Linked DNA regions of Homo sapiens: region 1 is linked to region 2. The links come from fine-mapping of genetic effects on gene expression. Tissue or cell type: whole blood. Region 2 holds a variant in brackets; the other region holds the start of a gene. All regions are shown on one strand. Distances are between the middles of the regions.

The links. PIP is the estimated chance that this variant, and not a neighbour inherited with it, causes the effect.
Region 1: YBX3 starts here. The variant in region 2 is the best candidate, but not a certain one, in a credible set for the expression of YBX3 in whole blood (INTERVAL, PIP 0.56).

The regions. Positions count from the first base shown.
Region 1 is chr12:10,721,540-10,725,784 of GRCh38, reverse strand. YBX3 (Y-box binding protein 3) reads left to right here and starts at 2,462. Exons shown (of 10, transcript NM_003651.5): 1 at 2,462-2,935. The coding sequence starts at 2,674. It overlaps LOC124902876, which reads right to left and starts at 2,733. Exons shown (of 2, transcript XM_047429946.1): 1 at 2,125-2,733; 2 at 467-748. The coding sequence starts at 2,675. The coding sequence ends at 679. RefSeq lists silencers at 2,347-2,566, 2,587-2,686, 2,817-3,216.
Region 2 is chr12:10,689,274-10,693,518 of GRCh38, reverse strand. No RefSeq gene overlaps it. Among named protein-coding and RNA genes, the nearest start is that of STYK1, 17 kb to the right of the region's middle. The variant A/G (reference allele first, on the strand shown) is at 2,046.

The sequences.
Region 1 (4,245 bases), 32 kb before region 2:
CCTGAGAACCACTGTCTTGGGGACTGGAGGCTGAGATCTTCAGTGGAGCTTCTCTGAGTTTCCCTCCTTCAGCCCTTCCAACAGTTGTGAGAGCTTTAACTTCCTCCATACTAGGAACAGAGTGGCATTTGTTTTTATGATCAAACCAATAATTGCTTAAAAATGACTGCTGTCAGCAATTAGATTATAATTCTTTGTTGACTTACTCTTAAACTTAGTAAATGATGATATTGTCTTACAATAGAAATGTTGATAGTGAAAAATAATTTTAACATCATATCAAAAGACCTTACAACCGGCTCCATTTTGGTCAACATTGGATACTCACAATGGTGTACTTTGTCCGGGACATAGCATTTGCTTAGCAAATATGAGTGTATGAATTAGTGAATGAAGGAATGGATAAATTTATGTGTATCTGTATCCAAGTTGCTTCCTACTTATGATTATTAAAACATAGATCATATTTGTTCTAATTTTCTTTAGATTTATTTAGTACAATACCAACAACTTCCAGCTGCTCACTGCTTTGTTTGGATGACAATGATGAGTAGTTTTGGAAGCCAGTCCAGCACAAATTCTAGGAAATCCCAGGGTGCATCTGTAATTATTTTAGGGTCTTCCAGAGGTTGGAGATCACACCTGTTAGTTATGAATTACTTCCAAGGATGAATTTTTTTAAAAGGCTTTACTGTTGGATCGGTTTGAAGAGTTCAATCTCCTTACTTTTTTTTCTTGTAATGTAATTCTGAAAGGTAAATAGCAATGATAATCATTTTGCTGAATAAGAAAGTCAATGGTCAGTCCTCACCAGAATAAATCATGTTTATAATTTAATTGTAATTAAGACCATAATCTTTCACATGAAGAAATAATTTAATCATTCTTAGAATTAGACCAGCATTTTAAAAGCATCTACATTTATATAACATCACTGTATGCTCCATACTGAAGTCAAACTAAAATATGAATCTAACATTTAAGAGTTTGTAATTTTTTAAATATTGATGAATTACATAGAAAAGCTCAAAATTACATAATTTGCTATTTTTTCAAATAACTTATTTTCTTTGTGTTTTTTGTGGATGAAATAAGAAAGTAAGAATTCAGGAAAGTTTCATAATAATTGATAGCAAATGTGCAGATAAGTAATTGAGTTTGGAAGAATTTGGTCTGTTTTCATTTTGTAAACATTCACTATGTCCAAACTCTGTGCTACGTACTGTACTAACCAGTGGAGATACAAAGATGAATTACACTTGATAGTTACCCTACTGATGTTAAGGTAGACATCGACATTACAGACATATTCCTGGAAAAAAATTTGGTAAATTGTTTGAGGGAACAGGCAATAACTTAAAAAACAAACAAAACAAAGGAGCTTTAGGTGGACCGGACACTGGAGTGACACATGATAATCTCATCTACTTTTCATGTCACCTTTGAGAACCTCTCATAAAGCAGGAAACCGACTCTGGGACATTGAATCTCTGTCCCAAGTTAACCTGGTTAATAAAAAACAAAGCCAGAATTTATACCTAGTCTGTCTGAACCCTAGGGGCCAAATAGTCCTGTATTCCAGACAGTCTTTGGGTACAGATCCCAGACCCTCTGGCCCTGTGTTTACTACCATCCAGCCCATTCTCAAAGGGCATGTGGGCTCTTCAACTTGGGAATAATGTTTATTGGGTGATCTGTTTCTCTATACCTCTCATCCTCGAGGCTAAGAGGGCTCAGTTCCTTAAGCTTTCACCAGCTGGCAGAGGCAACTGGAGCAGAAGGTAGGAAGTGGATTTATTCAGCTTTTTTTGTGTGTGTTCCTTATTAAATATATATTGACAGCTCCTTATTTGTTGCGGTTAAATTGGTGTAAACTCTGAATTTACATTAAATCTGTGAGGTCAATTTCCTCATCTGCGTGTTACAGATGAAATTATCCGTATATTACCTTTCAGGAGTAAGTTGCCAAATAGTCTTAAGGTTTTATTATTCCAGGTCTTAACAGCTGTGCTACGAATAGCTGCTGGTGCTTGATACATGTTGAATGACTGACTAGATGCAAAGGATTTAAAAACAAGTGTTTGAGAGGGTAAAGCGCAGAGTAGTTTGGGTGCCCTATTTTACCTCTCCTTGTCAGCTGCGGGTGTCAAGACGGGTTGAGGGAGGAGAGCCAATGCACCCCGCTCCAACAAAGGGTCAGCAGCGCGGGCTCCTCGGAACGCTCCAGAAGACAACCCGGGCGCCCCGTTCACCCTGGCTTTCCTTGGTTCTGCAACGCGACCCGCGCGCTCGCGTCCCGGCGGATTGGAGCCATAGAAAGCGCACCGGGCGCCTTTAAATGCTAATGAGAGTCCAGGGCCCGACTCCCGAGCCAAGTTTCCCCACCCTCTCCCCTCGCCCGCCCTTCCCTCCCGGGCCGGTGCGCCGCCTAGAAAAACTTGTGCGGGGCCATTTTTGGGGCAGTAAGATCGAGCGAGGAGCCCAAGAGAGAGCGCGCAGCACGAAGCTCGAGCCGCCTCCGCCGCGCGACCCCACCTCGGCCGCCGCCGCCTGCGCCGCGAGATCCGCCCCGGCCTCCCCGAGAGCGAGCCCCGGCCGCCGCGACCACCAGCCGCGCTAACCGCCGACCAACCGCCACCGAGGCGCCTGAGCGAGAGCAGAGGAGGAGGAGGCATGAGTGAGGCGGGCGAGGCCACCACCACCACCACCACCACCCTCCCGCAGGCTCCGACGGAGGCGGCCGCCGCGGCTCCCCAGGACCCCGCGCCCAAGAGCCCGGTGGGCAGCGGTGCGCCCCAGGCCGCGGCCCCGGCGCCCGCCGCCCACGTCGCAGGAAACCCCGGTGGGGACGCGGCCCCCGCAGCCACGGGCACCGCGGCCGCCGCCTCTTTAGCCACCGCCGCCGGCAGCGAAGACGCGGAGAAAAAAGTTCTCGGTGAGTCAGGCCAGGGAGGGCAGGGGCTGCCGTAGTGGGGCGGGCCCAGCCGGCCGCGGAGCACGTGTGGGCAGCTCGCGCTACATCTCCCACCCGGGCTGGAGACGCTGACAGCACAGGGTCCCCAGGGATCTCCGGGTCCCCAGGGGTCTCCGGGTCCCCAGCGCTGGCCGCCTCCCTTGCCGGCGCTCCCAGGTGAGCGCGCTGCGCCCTGCGCTCCTGGCGGCCGTGTGCATCTCCCTTCTGGTTCCGGGCCAGAAAGTTTAGGTCTTAACTTCTGTCTCCCAGACGGGCACTGTTGCGGATTCGCGTGGTGGAAAATGCCTGCGTTTGGAGAAGAAAGGAGAGGCAGTCTGGGAGAGGGGACCTTGGGTAGGGATGGATGTAGGGGAAGGACCGACACGTGGGCCTGGCGCTTTGGGGTCCTTGCTTGGGATCTGGGAAAGGAGAGCATTTCCTTTGGGGAAGAGGAGGGCGCTAGAAGGAGACGGGGAGGGAAAGATAGAAAAGCTTCTTGCCAGGAAGGGTCAGGTGTCTGTCCCTGACGCCCTTCCCACATGGGCATGGGAAAGACGCCATGCTCCTGTTGGCCACATGCCAGCAAAGAGATGTTGCAATCGTCTCCGGGAAACTTGGGTCTTAGTCCCACGTCTTCCTCCCCCTCTCTGTGCCCACGGCTGCAAACAGCCATTCAGTGTCCACCAATGGCTACACGCTTCCCTCTTCCCGGACTGTGGGAACGCACGTGGTGTAGCAGCTGAAAAAACTTTGTCGGAAGTGGGGGTATGACGTTAGTTCAAAACATTGTTACCTTGGCACTTGTAACGTAGGAAGGGAAACAGGAAGATGAAATGTTGAGATTTGGGGGGGCAGTGGATGGAAAGGGTTTCTGTGATGGTTGTTGGTTTAGTCACATAACAAGCGTTCTTTTCGTAAGTAACGCCCCTGTGTGAGTTCTTAAACGCTTGCAAAGCAGGTGGGTGGTGAATAACCTCCCTAAAGGGTGTGTGTCCATATCGTTCGCTCTTATAAACAGGAACGTTAACAGATGGTGTAGGATGCTTCGGAGACCTCTTCACTATTTGGGGTGGGGCATGTTTGTCTCATCTCTCTGAGCCCTACTTCCCCTTTGGGAAGAAAGTTGAGGGAGCAATGTGAGAGAAGTGTATTCAATATTCCCCACCTTGAGAGGACTATTTTCTTGTTTTTTTTTTCTAGGGCTTTTACTAAGTCCCTACCAAACAACATGCTAATTGTAACCTGTGTAGGTTAAGAAACAAAATAGGCCTGATTTTGCTGGACTAAAAGTT
Region 2 (4,245 bases):
GATGTTAAATTTTCTTTAAATGTTTGGTAGCATCTGAGCATAGAGTATTTTTTTTGAGAATTTTTAAACTACAAATTTAACAATTATAGGTCTATTCAAATTATCTATTTTATATTGGGTGAGTTTTGGTAGTTTATGCTTTTTAAGGAATTCATTGTCTCTAAATTATTACCACATTTGTGTATGAAGAGTTATAATGATTTTTTAGATTTTATTTTTAAGTCTTTGGGGATGGTAGTAAAATCTCTGTTTCACTACTGATATTTGTAATTTGCATCATTTTTTTCTTTGTCAGTCTCACAAGAGGTTTTCAATTTCATCAAAATTTTCAAAGAACCAGCTTTTTGTTTTATTGATTTTTCTCTGGTTTTCTGTTTTGCACTTTATTGACATCTGCTCTTTATTATTTCTTTTTTCCTGCTTGTTTTAGGTTTATTTTGTCCTTTTTCTGATTCTTAAGATTGGAGCTCAGATTATTTATTTTTGACTTTTTTCCTATTCTAATATAAACACTTATGCTATAAATTTCCTTCTCAGCATGGCATTAATTGTGCCCACAGATTTCAAATGTTGTATTCATATTTTCATACAGTTTAATGTATTTTAAAATTTATCTTGAAACGTCTTCATTGACCCATTAAGAAGTACGGTGTTTAATTTCAAATGCTTGTTGGTTTTTCTGTTATTCTGGTATTAATTTCTAATTTTATTTCATCATAATCAGGGAACACACACTGTATCATTTTGATTATTTTAATTTGTTGAGTTTTATTTGGTTTACGGTCCAGGATATGGTCTGTCTTAGTGAATGTTCCATGGGCTCTAAAAAATAATTCTGCTATTGTTTAGTGGTTTTGGTGATATTATTCTTTATCCTTGCACCAATAGAAAGACCATCTAATCATGTAATTTCTGCTCTGTGAACATGATAACTGCTGAGTTTTGGGAGAGACAAGGGAACCTGGGGCCATATGCTGACTGAGGTTGCCAAAAGAACTGGTTTGAACCAGCCAATTAAAGCACCTCCCCCATTTTGAAACTTGCCTTGCGGACTCAAGTAGATCTAACCAAAACCTGTCTTGACTACTCCAGAAGTCAGAGAAATTGGGTGGGGCAAAGTGAAAGATTATAAAAATTTTGTGAAAAATGTTGAGAAGCATGGTATGAAGTTACCTTTAAAGTCTCTTGCATAAATGAACAACACATTAAATACCAATGTTCTCAACATTGTTTTAGGCCTCCACAACAATCCTTGCTAGTCACTTTTGTTGCCATTTAGGAAATGTGAATATTGTGGATGCTGGTTACACAAATGTATTATAAGACTGAAATTCACAGAAAGTAGGCTGGATGGAGAACAAGCTCGGGAGTTATAATATCTAGGTTCAGGTCTAAAGCCCTCATCATCTATAACCTCAGGCTGCTCACTCCAGAACGTGGTTTCAACATATTTGAAAGGAAAAATGTAGTTTTCAACTAAAGGTAAAGGGGAAGACATTTCAGATTATCCCAGCTCTCCCTCAAGTAGAATATGCCATTGTCTTTTTGTGGATGGCTCTGTCCTGGTCTCATCTAGGGATTATGTTTCACTGCCTGAGACATGTAATCTATACCTCTACATAATTGTAGGACAAAGGATAGTGGAGGTCTCGGCCCATGTAGAGTAATCCAAGTGTGTGCCAATGACATTGTATCATAAGTATAGCCAACCAGAATAGGTAAGAGAGAAGCTAAACAAAGATCAAATACGTTGCTCGTTCTGGTCATTTAGTTTCTATTTAGAAAAGTGTATTTAAACTGTGGTATTAGATCGTTTTTGACAAGTACAGTTTGAGATAACCCTGATGATGTTGTGAAAGTAAAGTGTGCTGATAATGACTTTCCTTATTATTCTTATTCCTGAAGTCATTTTCTTGACAGACTCAGAACTTTCAGACCCTTTCCTCCTACTTTTTCTGCTTAGTGCTTCTCCTTTTTCTTTTTAAGGTTAAATTTTAAGGTTAAATGACTGCTGATGGCATGTGCAATTGTTAATCATTTCCATC[A/G]TCCCCAACAAGCAGCATTTGGTAGGTATTGAGGCCTTCCTTTATGAAGTTCGTTGTAGTTGGGAAGGTTTTGATGGTTAATTTTGTGTGTCAACTTGACTGGCCACAGGGTACCCAGATTAAACACTATTTTGAGGTGTGCCTGTGAGAGTGTTTCCAGAAGAGATTAGCATTTGAACCTGTAGATTCAGTAAATTGATTGTCCTTCACAGTGTGTGTGGGCATCACCTAATCCATTGAAGCCATGAATAGAGCAAAAGGCAGATGAAGGAGGAATTTGCCCCTTTTTCCCTGCCTCACCACTTGAACTGGAACATGTCGTCTCATCTTCTCTTGCCTGAGACTGGTATTTACACCATTGGCTCCTCTGACTCTCAGGCCTTTGGACTCAGACTGAATTAAACCACTGGCATCTCTGGAACTCCAGCTTACAGACAGCAAGCAGTTCTCAGCCTCTATAATGAGCCAATTCCTTATAATAAACCTTTTACATACATCATATATATACATCATATACACACACATCATATATATACACATATATACATCGTATATCATATATGTGAGATATATATATGTGTGTATATATCTCATATATATATATATATATATATATATATATGCTACTGGTTCTGATTCTCTGGAGAACCCCGACTAATAGAGATTTTGGTAGTGAGAGTGCTTCTAGAGGAATAGAATTTTAAGGATGAGTTTTCAGAATTCCTTCTGGAGTTCCCAGAATTGACTCTCTAATCTGATTAGATTTAAAGATGCTAATGACTACTTCCAGTAGTAAATAAAGCATTGATAGTGTATGACATGAACTGTTTATGGAGATATGCAAAATTTCTCCACTGGGTACTCCTAGTCCACCACTTACAAGGAAGCAAGGAGCTAAGTGACTATGTATATGATACTTTCAATCATTTTTGGAAAACTAAGGAAAATAATGATGTTAGTTGGTTGTTCCTATGTTTCTAGACAGAGTAGTGAAAGAAAAGGATGAGCTCAGGGATATGAAATCTCAGCTTAAGCACTACATAACTGTCTCAAGAGCTTCTATGTTTGACCTGAAGGAGACTCTTACCTCCTGTAGCTGTACGGCTGAAATTGCTGAAAATCGAAGGCAGAACCTCATCCTGTGACTGGCCGAGTACACTGCAAGTTGAATTCCCAGCTTTGCATGGTATGTTGTATTGAAGTGAGGGCATTAAATGAAAAAGCATGGGATCCTATACATTGGGATGTGGCTGTGTGGCAAGACCCTGATGAAGCTGGGGACATTGAGTCCCTCATTCTTATAGCATTCTTTACAAGTAGAAGAGGTCTTCCTAGCCCCCACAGAAGTGGTCCCCTCAACTCCAGAAGCAGCAGCCTCCCCATGCTCAATACAGTGGCATCCTCACCCCCAGTGGTATTAACCCTGAATTGCCTGAGAAAATAGTAATTGCCTTCCCTGAGACAGTGGCCCAGTGAAACAATACTGATTCTCAGGACCCACCCTCAACACCCTTATTTTCTTCTAGACCTACAACTAGACTCAAGTCCCAGCAGGCCCCTAAGGGTGAGGTAGAAAGTATGACCCATGAGGAGGTGCACTACACTCCAAATGAGCTACTTGAGTTTTCTAATTCATACACACAGAAATCCAGGGGACATGTGTGGGAATGGATACTAAGAGTATAGGGTGATAATGGAAGGAACATAAAATTGGATCAAGCTGAATTTATTGACATGGGCTCACTAAGCAGAGTTTCTGCATTTAATGTTGCAGCTCAACTCAAGGAGTTAGAATGAGCTCTAACAATTAATTTGATTGTTTGACTAAAACATTAATCAAAAGGTGGTTCACCATAAGTGAATTGGAAATACCAAAAATGCCTTGGTTTAATGTAGAGGAAGAGATCCAAAGGCATAGGGATATTAGAATGTTAGAGTGAATTAGTCATTTAAGACATTCTCACACTGAGAAGCCCAGAAGACATATCTTTCAGCAATACTGGAAGAAATAAATCTGTGAAGTAAGTTCTGGCATCTTTGAAGAGTTCTCTGATGGCTCTACTCTCCATAGGCCAGACCTCGTAGTGGGAACTGCAGTCACTGAATTGGGAAACCTAAATGCAGTAGGAGTAATTGGATCTTGGGGTAGCAGAGGCCAAGGCAAGTTGGGCGTAGTTACATTAGAGGGCATCAGAGTCAA